Regions from separate parts of the Homo sapiens genome. Here region 1 is linked to region 2. The links come from fine-mapping of genetic effects on gene expression. A gene starts in region 2. The other region holds a variant in brackets. All regions are shown on one strand. Distances are between the middles of the regions. Region 1 has its middle 64 kb from the start of LINC02285. Region 2 holds the start of LINC00523 (long intergenic non-protein coding RNA 523).

Evidence for each region.
Region 1: its variant is fine-mapped to the expression of LINC00523 in adrenal gland (GTEx, PIP above 0.99).

What each region holds. Positions count from the first base shown.
Region 1 is chr14:101,180,999-101,189,320 of GRCh38, reverse strand. No RefSeq gene overlaps it. Among named protein-coding and RNA genes, the nearest start is that of LINC02285, 64 kb to the right of the region's middle. RefSeq lists enhancers at 4,940-5,572, 5,573-6,206. The variant T/C (reference allele first, on the strand shown) is at 4,928.
Region 2 is chr14:100,653,809-100,662,130 of GRCh38, reverse strand. It overlaps LINC00523 (long intergenic non-protein coding RNA 523), which reads right to left and starts at 4,863. Exons shown (of 2, transcript NR_024096.1): 1 at 4,421-4,863. RefSeq lists an enhancer at 410-1,609.

The DNA.
Region 1 (8,322 bases), 530 kb before region 2:
TCTTTTCCTTTTCTTTTTTTGGTGCTCAAGTCTGAAGTTCTTTTCAATATGTCAGGCTTTTCAAAAAATGATTAAAATGCACCAGATTATTAAATAGAGCTGCTTCAGACTTAATTTAGCAAACTGTAACATTTTTATCATTTTTATAAAGCCCTTTTTAATGAAAACCGTCTGCAAGGAGACCAAATATCGAGGCTGAAATCATGTTTTCTCTATATTTGTTATCCCTGAAGATGTTGTTCCCAGATTTTACAGAAATAATAAATTTCATTTAGAAGTTTGGGCCTCCGCAGCCGTGCCACACATCTCTGAATTTTCCAATTTGCAGTGCGAGAAGCTCATCCCACTGTAATTTCTCACGCTTGCCAGCTCCTGACCGCAATTTCATACCTTCCTTGCCTCTTTGTAAATGTAGACCTTGTAGCAACATTCGACCCAATATGTTTATTCTACATGAGCCCAAAAAACGTTGTTCTAATGAGCATAAACATATTTTCTCAGTGACAAAATGTTTTCATCCTGTGGCTCCTGATTTTACAGGTCACTGCTTTGTGCTATTTCCCACAGGTCGTCCCCTCAGCCACCGGGAATTAGGCAGGAGGCGTCCGAGCTGGCTTTACACCATACAGGGTGTCATCTGTTTCGGTGTTGTGTGTGCCTGTCAGACATCCAAGCCTGTCCTGGACACCCCTCCAGTGACACCTCATTAACAGAGGTGAGACTTCCAGCCCCAGAAATTGTGTTTGCCATAAAACTACCTCGAAAGTGATTTCTCAGGTCCAAGGCCTGCGACCTGTCTTGGTGGCCGTCTGATGGCCTGTCTCCATGTTGGAAGCAGAGGTGGCTGGAGCCCGAGCTGCCCTGTGAAGTGGGCCAGGCCCTGTGGCCATGGCTGGCCAAGGTCATGACTGGCACACAGCCAGTCAGAATTACGCCTGAGAGCCAAGGTAGTGGGGCGTGGCGGGGGTGGGAGTGCTAACCTGGTTTGGCCCCTCTGGCTTCTGGAGTTTGGCTACAGAAGTCAGGTGGGGTCACGGGGCCAGGTAGTTCCTCCCTGGCTCCTCCTGGAGGGCGTCTTGTTAACTCTGATCTCTGGAGAGCAGAAGAGGGTTTGATGAGTACAGTGGAGCCCACAGCATAGAAAGGGCATCTGTCCTTCGGATCCCCCAAAGCCAACATCCTAACACTAGTCAGAGTCTGTAGGCCAGTCCGGTTCTCTTCAGCAACTGGGCTTTGGCTGGATTCTGAGAGCACCTCCAGTTCCTCCTCTCTGACGATCGAATTGGGAGGCAATCTGTGGCCAGGGGCACCCCTCTCTGCTGTGATTTCAGCCTCCAGGTGCTGCTGGTCCCAGGATGGGTTTGTATCTCCTGCTTTGCACCTGACTTGCAGGCATCACAGGTGCAATTGCTCTCAGTGCACTTTGGGTGCCCAGTTTTTTATCGAGGACTGGAAGTAGGGTCACCAACCATCCTGGCTTGCCTGGGACTGAGTTTTCTGGGATGCAAGACTTTCGGAGTTAAAATCAAGAGAGTTCCGGGCACACCAGGGAGGCAGATAAGCAGCGTTTATGCCGCCGCCTTTGGTGAAAAGTCATTTTCTGTAGGGGGGCCAAGTGGAACGTATCTCTCCTCCACCATACTGCAGGAGCATGGACGCCAGGGCACACCCTGCGTAACACTGTAAGTGTTCCCCGGCTGCTTCCAAGTGCCAAGGGATGTTCTCTCCACTTCTTCTTCATCCAAGAAGTTTAGGCAAACCAGCACATTACTGTCTGGGGTCATTCTCAGTCCTCAGCACCAGGGGACTGGCACCCAGGGAGCTTGATTCCATGAGTAACTGGCCTTCCCAAGAGGCCAGTTCTCTCAACACACTTGGGAAGAGACCGAGGCCAGAGGGGACAAGACTGGCCCACTGTCACTCAGTGAGTTGGTGACACTGTGGGGATCTGGACAGACCCCAGGGCACTGACCTCCCAGCACAAGGCTTTTTCTACCATGCACCTTGCCACGACCTGGCCCCAGCAGACCCCCCACATTCTCCTCCCAAGAAGCGAGGCCAACTTTCAGTTCAGCTGAGGTCACCCAGAACTCCCGGTGGCTTTTGTCACATCCAGCCTTACACTCCCATCAGTGCCAATGTCCCCAACCAGCCCTACCACCAAACTAGCAATCTTCTGAACCCCATGCTGTGAAGAACAAAGGACCAATTCAGCCTCCTGGGCAGGGAAGGGGTCTCATTAAGGCCCTGGGAGCCAACGTGGGGGCTGAGGTATTGTTTTTAATGGAATAACAAGAATTTGCTGTTATGTGTTAGATTAAAGGCTTTATCCTGGGGAATTAATCGGATTGCTACTGGCCTTGAGTCGCATAGCCTTTGACTTCACATCCTCAGAGAAGTCACAGACCAGGGCTGTGAAATTGGTTCATTTCTCTTTCTGGTATTTAATGAAGCCCCAGACAGCCGTGGCACGGCATCTCCTCCCCAGGGCGGCTGTGAATTACCTCTCACCTGCACTGGCGACAGTCTCTGAGCACTCACCAGCCCACCCCCCTCCTCCGCTAATCCATCCAAGACACACTGCCAGATTCATCCTCGGAAAACATAGCTCTGGTCACGAACTGCTCAGAAGCCTGGGTCTGCCCACCGCCTCCAGAATAATCTTCAAATTCTCCCATCCCCTGAGCTCCTGTTTCAACAAACTTCAACTTTTTATTGGAGTATAATACACAGGTGGAATAGTACATGGATTGGAGGTGTACATATTGAATTTTCACAGAGTAGCGGTGCAGGCCTCTAGCCATCCCCCAGAACAAGAAACAGAACCATGCCAACGCCCCAGAAAACCTCCCACCACACCTCCCTTCCGGTTGGCAGCCTTCTGTCCCAGGGGTGACAATTACTCTGCTTTCCACACTATTTTTAAGTGGTTTTTACATTTTTATACATGAAATTATACAGTACGTTGTGTATGCTTTTGTGTTCAATATGCTTTAAAAAGGTGGCCTCTCCTTCCAGCTCTGCATACCCCACACAGCCAGGAAATAGTAGGCACCTCCCAGACAGACCCCACCATGCGACCCTGCTCCTCTGGGCATCTATCATGCCTCAAATCCTTGACTATCTGATCAGGAGCCCCCTTTTCCAGGAAGCCCCTCTGGATTCCCCTGCATGCTGAGAGCTGCTTCCTACGGGTAGAAACTTCCCCCGTGTGAATCTCTGGTTAGACCGGGAGCTGCTCAGGGATGGGGACTCCTGGGGGTACCTGTCTAAGGACTTGCCTCCCAAGGGGAAGTTTGTCCATAAACAATAGTGCTTGCCAGTCCATTATGAGTTCCCGTTTCTTCCTCTATTGTAGTGTATCCTGTCTCAAGGCATGAGTTTGCTTGTCATTGTCATCATGGATTTCAGATGGTGGTATAGTCTCCTGGGAAAGAGAGGGAGGAACCAAGAAAGAAGCCAGGAAGAGAGGGAGGGAAAGAAGAGGGTGGCTAAATGTTTGAAGGCCTACTATGTGCAAACCCTTGTGGTCACTATGCTGCTATTGCCTGGTTCCATCGTCTCAACCACCTCCTGAGGTGAGTTCAATTTCCCTACAAGCTGTGTGGCCCTGCACAGGTTGCTTGACATCTCTGAGCCTCTGTTTTCTCCTCTGTAAAGTGGGGATCATGGAACCCACCTTGCAGGCTGCTGTGTGGACAGGTGATAGTGAGGCCAAGAGCTGGCCCGGGGCTGGGGGCACGGGAGGCCGCCAAGTCACAGCTGTGATCACAACCTCGATGTCCTGTCTTTGCATCTCACCTTGGAGGAAGGAGGAAAGCCAGAGAAGCTCTTCCCACCCCGGGAGGAAGCTGGGCAAATCTCAGCACCTCCTTCCTCCTCTTGCAGACTCTGCTGGGTGTGACCCAGTTGAATATCTCTGGAAGCCCCCGCAGCTAAGCAGGGGCCATTCCATTTCTTCCAATCTTGTCCAAGGTGAGGGTCCAGCCCAGGGGGGAGGACTGGGCCATGGTGGCTCTGGGCACCCCCGGCACCCCTTCCCTGAGGTCTGCATATCTCCAAGAGGAAGGGACACACTGGAACTGCCTGGGAGCTGGCAAGAGGTTTAGATCTCTGCTTGGCACAAGACACAGAGGTCCGGTTGCTGCTCTGCTGAGGTGAAAGCCGGGATCGGTGGGGCCTCGGGTGTAGTTTCTAAGGAAACGTCTTTCCGCCACACCTTCATTGTCGGTGACTGAGACCCCAGAGTTCTATCTTCCATCTGGCAAAAATCTGTGAAAGTTAGTTCCTATTTCATACCCAACAAATACCCTAAAGGGACTGAAGATTTAATAAATGACAAATAGCTAGAGCATTAGAAAAGGGAAGAAAAATACCGGACCCTCAGATGGGGAAGGCTTTCCAAGCAAGATGCAAAATCCAGATGCCGTGAAGGAAAATAATAACCAATGTAAGATCATGAGACCACTGAGTGCTGAAAGACACACACACATACACATGTACACACACATACACACAGGCACACACACAGATGCGCACACACACACACACAGGCACACACACAGATGCACACACACACGCACACACACAGATGCACATGCACACACACACGCCACACACACAAACACTCGCACACACACACACACAGACTAAAATTAAAAGATAAATAACAAACTGGAGGAATATAGTTGAATGTTTCTGATAGACAAAAGAGCAATACCCTTAATAAACAAAAAAGTTATAAATTAATTGAAACAACTCTCAATAGGAAAATGGACAAAGGCTCCAAGGAGGCAATTCACAGGAGAGCAGTAAAAATAGCCAGAAACATCTGAAGAGTTTCTTGACCAGAGAATTTTACATTACAAAATGAAACAATGAGATGTGGGGTTCCTTTTGCTGCTGACATCGGCCCAAGAGTTCCTGT[T/C]TGACAGTAGCCAGGGCTGACAAGGGTGTGAGCAGCAGGTGCAAGCCTGTGCATCCACGCCGCGTGCGTGCCTGTCTAGGGAGGGTGCTTAGGAAGAATCTTCCACGATGAAAAATGCAGCAACCCCCGGACGCAGCCGTGGGTTGTAGGGATCCGGCAGGACCTGCTGCAATGTCTTTCTCTGGGTCTCAGCAGGACACATCTTGTCCACGCATGCCTGTTCGTCTTTAATGCTCTCACCTTAGATCCCATAAAACTGGGGCACCCCCCCCATCACCCATGTGAAGAGAGGTGGGGCCCAGGGCAGGTTCAGTGCACGTGGGGCACTCCTGCTGTGACCGCTCCCTGCAAAGCCTTTTCCCCTGCTGGGTCCACCTCATTCTGGAGGACACCCCCAGATCTCAGGCCATGCATGTGTGTTCAGGCCTGGGTGCAGTCACAGCTCTCAGGGTGGTCGCAGTGGCAGCTGCTGGGTCTGGGGTTGGGGACCTTGGCCGGGCAGGCTCCATGAGGCTCTCCTGTGCATGAGCTGACTCACATGCGTGCTTGTGGGGCCTGTCACACCGGTTCTGGGGATGGCAACCCGGGATGAGCGCCCCTCAGCCTTTCCATGGGGCCCAGAGCCTGCCAAAGGTGGCAGATACTTCAGGCCTGGAGTGGGGTTGCTGCCGGCCTCCCAGCTGCTGACAGCCTCCTGGGAGAGACCTATGCCTTCCCTGCAGGTGGCCGCTGTGCTAGACGCTCACATGTGTGGCCTGGGCGGGCTGGGCCGGAGGTCCCGGGCATCCCTGCCCCGCGGTCCTAGTGTGAAGGCTGCACTGCCCACCAGGTGGCCTGGCTCCAGGACTGGAAAGAGAGGACCCTTCCTGCCCAGGGTTTCTCTCCAAGCCCACAGCGCCTGGGGAAAAGCAGCCCCTCGTCCGCAGCCGCAGCTCATGGTGCCCCCTAGCGGGATCCGGGCTGGCGGCAGCTGCATGAGCAGGGCTTTGGGGTGGGTGGGAGCAGCCTGGCTCTGCTGTCCCTGCAGCCTGGGCCTGGGGCCTGTTGCACAGGGAGATGCCCCTAGAAATGAAAGGAAATGAGAAAGTGAGGAGGACCCCGGGACCAGAGATGCAGAGGAGGGAGGGAGAGGGGCCAGGGGGAAGGAAAAGGAAGAAAGGGAGTGGGGAAGGAAAGGGACAGAGACTCAGAGACTGAGAAGGGGGAGGATAGTGGAAGAGGGGAAGGGAAGAAGGAGCAGGGGTAGGCAGGGAGGGAAAGAGGGGAAGGGGAGGGAGGGAAAGAGGGGAAGGGGGGCAAGGAAAGCCCTGAACCAGGGCAGGGAGAGACGGAGCTGGAGAAGATGCCAAGGGTGTTCCCCACCCCTGACTCTTCCATTCATCCTGAAAGTGATTTGGACACACATCTGCCTCACTCTCTCAGGGAAATGGTTTTCTTGTCTATGAGTGGGTTTGAACACCTGACCCCTCCCTGCCCCAGTGCATCTTGCAAATCCCTTAAACTTGTCAGGAGACATAGTCGCAGCCTCTGCGATGGTCTCTGGAGACTCTGGCCTCCTGGTGTTCACACCCAGAGTAATCCCCTCCCCTTCAGTGGGAGCTGGTCTTAGTGATGGCCTCTCATGAGTACGATAAGCAGACATGATGGGACATCACTTCTAAGATCAGGTTTTAAACACCATGGCTTTCGCCTTTGGGTCCCCCCTCCATTAGATCTCTCACTCTGGGGGAAGGAAGCTGCCATGCTCTGAGGCTGCCCTGTGGGGAAGCCCATGTGGCCAGGGACCAGGGCCTGCCCATAGCACATGTATGGACTTGGGAGTAGAGCATCCCCACACCAGTCGAGTCTCTGATGAGACCATAGCCCCAGTCAACAGGCTCATCACAGCCTGTGACAGACCCTGGGACAAAGGCACCCAGCTGAGCCATCCAGGTATTCCTGATGCTCAGAACCTGTGAGATGATGAATGTTTTTGGTCCCCAGCTGCTAAATTTTGGGGTTATTTGTTACACAGCCACAGACAGCTAATACAGGAGCCCCCCAGGGAGAACAAAGGGGTCTGCCTCTGAGGGAGTGTGGGCACTGGCCGGTCACTCTCTGGACACTCTCTGGCCTTGGGAGCTCTCTTGGTTCCAGCCTTGGGGTTCCAGATGGGGAAACAGGCCTGGAACAGGGTGGCATTTGCCTGAGGTCTCCCCTGCTTTGGTCAGGGGCTGGAGTGCCTTCCTTGGCGGGCCTGACTTTGGGACTTAGAGACACTAGGTCCTCAAGGGCTCTGCTGGGGGAGATATGCTGCAGGCTGTTGGTGCAGTCACAAGAGAAGGTCCTTGGACCCTGGCAAGGGCAGGCACAGGGCAGGTGCTGACCAGGAGGACAGCATCCTTCGACCTCCCCTGGCCCCTCACTCTCCGTTCCTCATAATGGAAGTGATTTGGGGAAGGTAGGGTTGGAGGGAGTGGGGCTGGGGTCAGGGCAAGGGTATGCACTGGTCTCTGTGATTTGGCTAAATGGTGGTCCTGCAGGTGGCTTAGAAGGCTTAATTCCCCACCCACACCTCCCACTATAAGTGAGGAGCTGGGGCCCGGGAAGGAAGGAAGTGGCTCAAGCTCACAGCAGAAGCTCTGCAGAGTGGTGAGCAGGGCCACTGAAGCCTCCAAATCCATGGGCCCTGGAAACAGCTCCCCACTTACCCCACAAACCCTCACTACATCTGGAGACCAGAGCTGGCCAAGAAGGAGAAGGAAGTGGGGAGCCAGACATGCCCACATCTGCACCTCAGGTCTGAGGCTGATGGGTCTCCCCACTTCCCCACACATCCTCTTTGGGCCCCAGTTCTGAGCCATGGTGAGCACTCTGGGCATCACACTCGACAGAAATGATGATTTAGGCACACCAGATAAGACACAGGGTGCCTGATTAAGTGGGAATCCCAGACAACCAATGAATAATTTTTAGATATAAGGATATTCATGCAATATGTGGGATATACTTATACTAAAAAAGTATCTATTGTTTATCCGAAATTCCGACTTCACAAGGCATCCTTTTTCTCATTTGCAAAATCAGGCAATCCTATGACAAGGGCAGGCAGGCTCCATACAGGTGGCTGTGAGCCTCTGGCTTTGGGCCATGTCACACTATTCCTTAATTGGGTATGGGAGTTAGGGACTTAGCAGGGAAGAGCTGGAGTCTGATAACTAAACACCAGCACCTCTTGTTGATAACTAAACACCAGCACCCCTTGCTGATAACTAAACACCAGCACCCCTTGCTGATAACTAAACACCAGCACCCCTTGTGATAACTAAACACCAGCACCCCTTGCCATCTTGGGCTGGATTTCAGCCCTCACCTCTTCATACCCTGGGCCTTGAGCAGGCAACCAGCAACACAGC
Region 2 (8,322 bases):
GTACTAAGTCTCTGAAGTCCCGTATGCTGCTTGCACTCACAGCACCTTTCGATTTGGTCAAACTGCATTTCAAGTGTTCAGTACCCATGTGGCTCATGGCTGCTATATCAGAGAGTGCAGGTCTAGGGTGCTTTTTAAAGCAAATGGGCGAGTGTTGAGTGTGACAATGTTGGACTGTCAAGGCCTGTAGAGTTTGGGACCCTGCTAGTCCACACTTGCCCCTGAGCCTTGCAATAATGAAATCCCTTCCTTCCTCAGGGCCAGCTGCTCCATGCACACCATATAGAATCTATACACTCTTTCCCAAGAGCTCCATGCACTATTAGGTGGGGAATCATTGGATGTCAGGAAAAGAAAGGGCAAGATAGCTCCATGGTGCCCTGGGTCGACGATGGAGAAGCATGCCTCTGAGAGCCCTCCAAGGTTAAGAAACAGGGAGTCCCCAGCACCCCTCAATCATCCTCATTCACATTGCTACTGCCCCGTTTTCCACACTTCAGTTTCCTCGGATTTCGTACTCCAGGCAGAAGCTCCAAGACGCCTAGTACTTCAGGTTTGACATCCTGCCAGCTTGGGCTCCAAGCAATGGGCTCCCCGTACATTGCGAACCGCGTGTCTCCCAAGATGAAAGACTGTAAAAAAAAGATAAAAATAGTTCCCGGGAAAGGGACTGCTTCAGCTGGCCCAGTTTGTAGAGTCCCTGTTTCATCTCTGATGTGAATAATTCATCTCTTCTAAAGTGCTGCTGTTAAGTTAGGAGCATCATTATTGCATTTTTTTTGATGAGGCACTTCTTAAAAAATCATAAACACCCAGCACATTAAGAGGAGAGCCTGAAGTACGTCATTTAGAGCCATTTGCTCAGGCAGAACCCAGCGCTTGTGATCCGTGCCGTCAGCTTGTTCCCTAAGCTGACATATCAAAGCTGCCTTTGGTTTCCTCCTTTGCTTAGACTAGGGAGTATGACCTTGCTTCTTTTGAAGAGTTTGCAGAGGTGGCCCTGGAGAAGGAAACAGTCCGGCCTGGGAAGCAGGCGGCCGGAGGGCTGGCCCTTGCTCTCTTTGGCCTCTTCTCAATTACCTTGTGAAGACAAGCACAAGTAAACAACTCTGGAGTGAGGCCAGCTCAGTATACATTCTTGAAGAAGCCGAAGGGCACTGCGATATGAATAATAATATGAGTAACAGTGACTCATGCCACCATTAATTGATCACTTACTACATGCCAGGCCGCCCACACTAAGAGCTCTAGATGCATTATCTCATTTCATCCATGCAACGCTATGAAGAGGGACACTCCTATTATACCCATTTCACAGATGAGGGCACTGAGGCACGGAGGGCAGGGATGAGTCATTTGCAGGGCTGTCTGCTCCTGTCCTTCTCCACCTCTCTCAGTGGGGAGGGACACTCCCCTCCAATTGCTGATAGTCCCTGGAATCCCAGCTGAGCCCAGAGCAGGTCTGCAAAGAGGTCACTGAACTCCGTGATAGTAAGGTCAAGGCCACCCTGAAACCAGCCATCTCCTACAGAGCCAGGCTGCCCTCCCCTTGCACACAGGCTGCCTGGGCTTAAGTTCCGCCAACAGACTTGGAGCAGGAGGGCTGCGGGCTGCCCTTTGTATGCACATGCGTCTCCAAACCAGCCTTTTTACAAAATGTATTTTAGTTGTGGGATCCTTTATTCCCGTGAATTCTTATCCAGAAGCCCAAAATGTAGAATAGATTTTCAGGGAGTTTCCCTGGTTGAAGGGAGGCATGGGGGACCCAGAGACCCCTAGAACAGCCCTCTCAGCACCCTGGACCTGGGTGAACCAATGCTCTGAGTGACTTCTTTGTTTGACGAGACGGGTCAACTGAGTCCCGGGGAGGGCAGCCACAGGGCTAACATTTACTGCGCACTTGCCGCGAGCCTCACTGTGCGGAAGCTCTCTCGTTCTCTCCGGTTACCCCGAAGCCTCAGGCTCCCCTAGTTCACCAAGCCCAGGTTTCTGGGAGTGAACCTGGTCCCGCTGCCTGCTCCACACCTTGTACATCTTTGTCTCAGGTCTCGAGGGACAGGATTGAGGTGGCCCTGTCCCTTCTGTCCCCTCCATCCCCAATGACAACTGATGGGTTCCAGGTTTTCTGTTTCCCTTTAGCAGGAAAATGGAGCCCAGAGATTTGGTCTGGCTTCCCACGTGAAAAGTCCACCTGCTACTTGGCCGGTGTAGGTGTGGGCTGACCAGGTGCCTCCTGGCCTCTGGGGCCTCCTTTCTGGCACAGTAGAGCCGGGGTGGAGGGCGGCCCCACGGGGACAAGGCTTGGCAGAGCCAGAGGTGAAGTGGCCGGCATGGCAGCTATCCACAGCTGGGCCCAGGCCTGCCCCAGTGGTAGACACAGGGGCCCAGCTCAGGCCCCATAAGGAGGAAACTAGAAACAATTTTCCTCACCTCGCACAAATCCCATCCCAAATTCCCACCCACCAGCTTAGAGGGAGCGGAGGCCTGAGCTCATCTTCTCACGTGGAGCTCGGGCATGGTGCTGGGGCCCCAAGGCCCCGGAATCCCTGTCTGGGCCTCTGATCCCTGTCTTCAGAAGGTGGCGAGCCACCCTTCCGGCCTTAGGCCTGCTGACATGGGACCCAGTGTCTGTTTGTCCAAGTTCAAGGATTATGAAATGTGGGTTATTGCCCTGCTCTGCTGATACTGGCTCTGTGGGGCCTCCATCCCAACCCCCTGATCGCAGAAGCCCCAAGCTTTCTGGAGACGCTTGGCCTCGTTTTATTCTCCCAAGAAGACCCTGCGGTGGGCAGAGCAAGACTTTTAGCCCCATCTCCCTAGCGGGAGAACTGAGGAGTCACGGCAGTGCCCTGGCCCCAGCTAGCAGAAGTCTGGCAAGCTCCAGGGATTTCGAATCCTCTTGGGAATTCTCGCAGGAGCCAGTCCCCTTTTTGCCAAGTGACTCCCACACAGACCCATCAAACTTTGCAGGTCCCCATGGGGGAGCAAACTTTGCAGGTCCCCTGCAACTGGACGGGGACAGCCCTGAGTGGTGAAGCGGGGCTCTGTGGCATATCCCCCGGCAAGGAGCCCCCCTGGCCACACCCACTGTCCAGGGATGCTGCCCCCAGCCAGACCCTCAGCCTCCTAGTCCTGGACCGAGACAGGGTGGGCTCGGGCCACACATGAGACCTCCCGTATATGTCCTGGGCTAGCACAACTGCTGGGTTGGCCAGCACTGGGCTAGGTCTGACCCCAAGATGGAATAAACAAAGGAAAATCCATGACAACTGGACTTAGCTCAGGGTGGGCCCTGCCCTGACATCCTCTCATCCCGCAGAGCTGCCCACACACTCAGGGGCATGGAGGAGCCACAGGCTGGCCAGGGGCCCAGCACCCTGGAGGACACAGAGAGGCACGGAAGTCACCTGGGCTGGAGGGGAGGAGTCAAGGCAGCCCTCCCAGGGACAAGGCCCTTCCGGCTGCAGCTGCAGAGAGGGAGGGAGGAGGAGGAGCAGGTCTGCCCTCTGTTCTGACACCAGGGGCCTTCTGGAGCTCCCCCAATGCTGCTCTCCCCATGCTCCTCCTCCCCTCCATGGCCTAGCCACCTCCCCTTTGCCCTCCTGGCTGCAGCCTCTGCTCCCCTCCCCATCCCACTTGCCTGAGCCAGCGCCACCTGGCCACATCCTGTATCTGCCCTCACTGCCACTCCCCAGGGCCCCTAGTAGCCCCCTGCTGTCCACAGGGACAGTCCCACCCCTCCCCACCGGGAACAGAGCCCAGCACCATGTGGCCCCTCAGGCTGTCCAGCTCCAGGACTCCTGTCCTGGCCACACCCTGCACTGTGGCCCCAGGTGCTTGGGGGCGTTCCCTGCACCTCCAAGCTTTAGCCACAGGTGCATCCTCCTGCTGGAAGGTTCTCCCTCCCCTCCCCACCTACTGTTCTTGCCCCAAGACTGGTCTTCATAGCCCGTCTCTGGGGCCTCTCCCCATTCCCTGGCTCATCCACAGTGAACCCCTCCTGGCTTGTCCAGACCCCACCTCACCTGGACCACAGCTTGTCACAGTTGGCCTGCATGCCAGACAGTGGCTCCTCGGGGCAATGACAGCATCTTTCTTTTCTTGAGCTTCTCTGAGGCCAGCCCAAGACACAGTTCAACCCGTGTTTGTTGAATGAATAAATGACCTACAATGGGGCCTTACCCTTTCACACCCAGGACAAAGTCATTTGCTCCCTCCAGGTTTACTTTGCTTTACTTTGCTAAACCACCACGCTTGCTCTCCTCTGCTTCACTCTTGCCTCCCACTGCCCACACCGAGTGTCCACCTTAAAGGGAACCCCAGAGCCAATGAGGGAGGCATGAAATCCTGACTTCCGACTCCTCCCCACCTGAGCTCCTCCCACTGGAACCTCCTGATGGGGCAGAAGGTTCAGGCTCACCTGAGCTGGGACCTGCCTGTGCTCCTAAGGGCATGGCCTTTCCGGCAGTTGGCTCCAAGTCACTTTGGAGAGACATTAGCATCCAGGCTCCTCTGACCCTCGAACGGGAGTTGCTTTTTGCGCCTCCCGGCAGGGAGCCCCCAGTGTCCTTGTCTTCTGGTGTCACCTGCTTCACAGCACGTCTCCCAAAATGCTTCAGAGCATTTCCATTTTTCCACGAAAGAAATGACCCGTTTCCTGGGCTCCTTTCTCCTCTGTGCCTCTGTGGCAGAGAGAGCTGCCTTTGTCGTAAAATAATTTCGGGCGCTTGCCTCTCTCTCACGCACAACTGTTCAAGGCTCTTTCCTCCGACTGACTTTCATGTCGCAAAACTCTATTAAGCTTTCATCTGCCTGGGGGAGCCGTGCCTTGAGGAACCAGGGAAGGGAAGGAGTGCTCCGGACAGTGCGCAGGGGATATGTAAATGGGTGCAGAACCCAGAGCCTGCCTCTGCCCTCCAGTCCACCCACCCGTCTCCAAGCGAGAACCGCCCTGCCTCGCGCTCCCCCGCCTGTTCTGGAAAGGGCGGTGTGAGGCAGGCAGGGCAGAGCCACCCTGAAATCCTCATCTGGATTTTTTGTTCATTCCAGTGGCAAAGAAGCTCACTCCCAGGAAACCGGGTGCATTCGAGGAAGGTGCTTTGGTGGAAAGAGCACTGGGGCAGGAGTCCAGGCCTGGGTTCGAGTGACAGCGGGTGCTGATTCCTCAGGGTTTCCACACTTCCTGGCAGGGAGGGCCTGGCTGCGTTGCCGTCTCTAATATTTGCCTAATATAGAATGGACCACTTGCTGGGACTCCACACATGTCTGAATATCCACCGCCGCAGGATTTTGTATTCCTTCTCTCTAAGAGGAACCCCCTAACTGTGTATGCTGAGATGCCACCAGGCTGGACGTCCCCATCAGAGCTGCCACATCTCCCTGCCGTGTGGCCCTGGGTGAGCCACCTTCTCTGTGTGCCTCAGTCTCCCAACTGTGTTTCCTCAGTGTTGTGAGGACTGAGTTCCATCGCAAACCACTCTCGCATGTGCCAATGGAGTGTTATGGTTTCCAAATACATGCACCCATCATGGGCTCTAATTCCCACCAAAAAAAAAAAAAAAAGCTCTGAGGTTTTCACCAGTGAGCCAGCTGATAGCAGCCAAACCAGAGCTGGGTTCAGGGTAACCAGCCTCCAACCATTTCAAAGCAGCCTTCGGACCTAACTTTCCATTTCCTCTGGGCAGCTGCTGTCCTCCAAGACTCCAGCTGGGGAAGAGAACAGCCCCATCTTCTTTCTCCACCTCTCAGCCGTGAGCTGGCTGTTCACAAATCACTCACTCTTCATTCTCACAGCAACCCTCACCAAAGCCCCGTGTCACAGATGAGGAAACTGAGGCTCCACAGCAGGAACCCGCTTTCCCAAGGCCCCATCTGTCTCCCGGTGAGCTCCTTCCCAGTGACATAGCACATGCTCTGTCTGTGCAAGTCCTGAAGCCACCACCTGTTTTACCTGACTGGAGGCTATCCTGCAGCAGGACACAGAGGGCTGGGCTGGGCTGCCTGATTCCGTTTCTGTGCTTCTGTCTCCTCTTTGCCCAGTGCTGCCAGCCAACATCCAGCTGCCCAGGGAAACTGCAGCCCCAGCAAGATGGGCCACCCTGGGCCACCCCCTGAACTTCCAGAGCCATCGGCTCTGCCCATCTGTGCCCATCTGTCTCACCTGTAACCCTAATGGCAGCCTCTGTTCAGGACCACCAGCAGGAGCCAGGCCTCCCCACACCTCACAGTGCCACCTCTCCAAACCCATCCCTGCCATCTGGAGCCCAGGGGACAGTCGGAAGCCTGCTGAGGGAGGAGGTCAGGAGATGGAGGCTAAAGGGGAGAGCACCAGAGTGAGGAGGGGCTCCAGAAGCTAGGCTGAGGGCAGACCCTGCTGCCCCCCAAAAAGTCACCATCCAGTGGGGTCATTATTTTTCAATCGGGGAGGCTTTGTACATGTATTTCTTAAAAATGAGGAGGGAAGGACGTCTGCAGGAGCGTTTCCTGTGTTGGAGTCACCAGCAGCTCACGCCTCATTGCTCCCGTCTCCTCCAGCTGTAATTAAGCCAGAGACACCAGGCACTGCTGCCTGCCCAGCTCCAGTCCCAGCACAATAATCAGCCCTCAGTTAAATGAGGAGGATAAATACAGGCAGACCGGGACTCCAAGGACAACAGCCCCCGGTTACCGTCCTCCACAGACCCGGACCACCACCCAGCTGCCTTGGTCGCTGAGCAGTCAGAGGATGGACAGAACATGCAGGGCCTCCTTGGTGGGAAGCCACGGACAGGGGGGGCCCCCCACGCAGGGCCTCAGTTTTCTCATCTGTAATATGGGGGAGCAGACAAGTCCCCCACGTTACCCTCTGCAGGCCTCGCTGTGGTCCTCTCCACTTTAGCCGTCACCTCTTGGCCTCCTGAGTCAGACCTGCAGAGGCAGGCCCGGGAATCTGCACTTCCCGAGATGCCCCAGGGAGCCCCTCCGTGGAACCACGTGTGCCAACGCCTGGGAGGAGGGCAGGTGGCCAGAGGATCCTGGGGTCCCTCTCCCAGCCCAACCCCACCCCCAGGCCCTGTGGCTGCTCCCCCTCTGCAAAGGCACCAGGAGGGAGGTCAGGCCCTGGCGGAGCCAGCCACGCAGGTCAGTGCCCCGGGCAAGTGGGTGCTGCGGTGGCCTCGGGCCACAAGGGGGCAGAGGCGGCCAGCGAGGCCGCAACCTTCGCTCAGGTGAGCCGGGTCCGCTGCGCTGCGCTGCGCGCCGGGGTCCTGCACCCACGCTCTTCGCCGCAGAGGAGACCCCGGGGGGCAGGGTCGGGCGGGGGCCTCTCCGTGTGGCCTGGGTGGTCCTCGGGTCCTCAGCCCCTGCCCCCGCCTCTTCTGGAAAGCTCCTCACAACGCTGCCCGGCCCTGCTGCCTCCCAGCCCCGACACAGGAATCCCATCTCACTCCAGCGCCCGCCCTCCCCTTCCACGGTGCAGGCGGCTTCATCCCTGCTGAGTCTAATTCCACCCTCATTCGCCCCATTTCACAGAAGGAGTAAACTGAGGCCGAGAGAGGGCAGGGGCTGGAGCCAAGGCCCTCCCTTCTGGAGCAGCAATCCTAGAATTGGGAAACTTTGCCTTTTGTTATGGTAAGAAATGCTGTTGAGAATTTCTTAATTCCCCTTTGGAAAAGACAGGTTGTGCTGTGTGCAGAAATCGTTATTCAAAAATTACAGACTCTAGTTGTTTCTATGGAAACATTTTTTCACCTTATGCAAATGAAGCAAGAGGCATGAAAACAACGCCTTCCCTTTCTGCCCCCCTCCACCAACTTTCTTTTTGGAACCTTGAAAAGCTGCTGCTGAAAGTTTCGTCCTCTGTAGGGGTGCTGAAGGCGGCCTCTGACACTGGGGAGAGTTTGCTTCATTAACTCGGGGACCTTTGTGACCCTGGGCCGAGCCGAGACTCAGGGTTCCCCGGCCAATTACTCTGAGGCCCAGCTCCATTTACTCCCACTCTGATCATTACAGAGTGGTGGGTGGCAAATGTCACTCCAGAGTGTCTCCCCTGCCCCCTTGAAGGGGAACCCCTGCTTCCCACCACGATTCCTTCAGGAAGCCCCACAGCAGGAGGGAAACCCCCCACCGCTCAGAGCACCCATCGTTTACCCAGCCTGGACTGGCATTCTTTTGAGGAGCCAACCTCTGCACCCACTCCTGCACTCATCTCTGCCTCCACGGGGGCTCCCAGAGCCAAGGGACAGGAATGTTGGGCATATCTTTCCTCTGGTTTTGATTCAAGCCCCCACATTGGTGCCTTCCAACTATGTGGCCTTGGACAAGTCTCTGCCTCTCTGAGCCTCG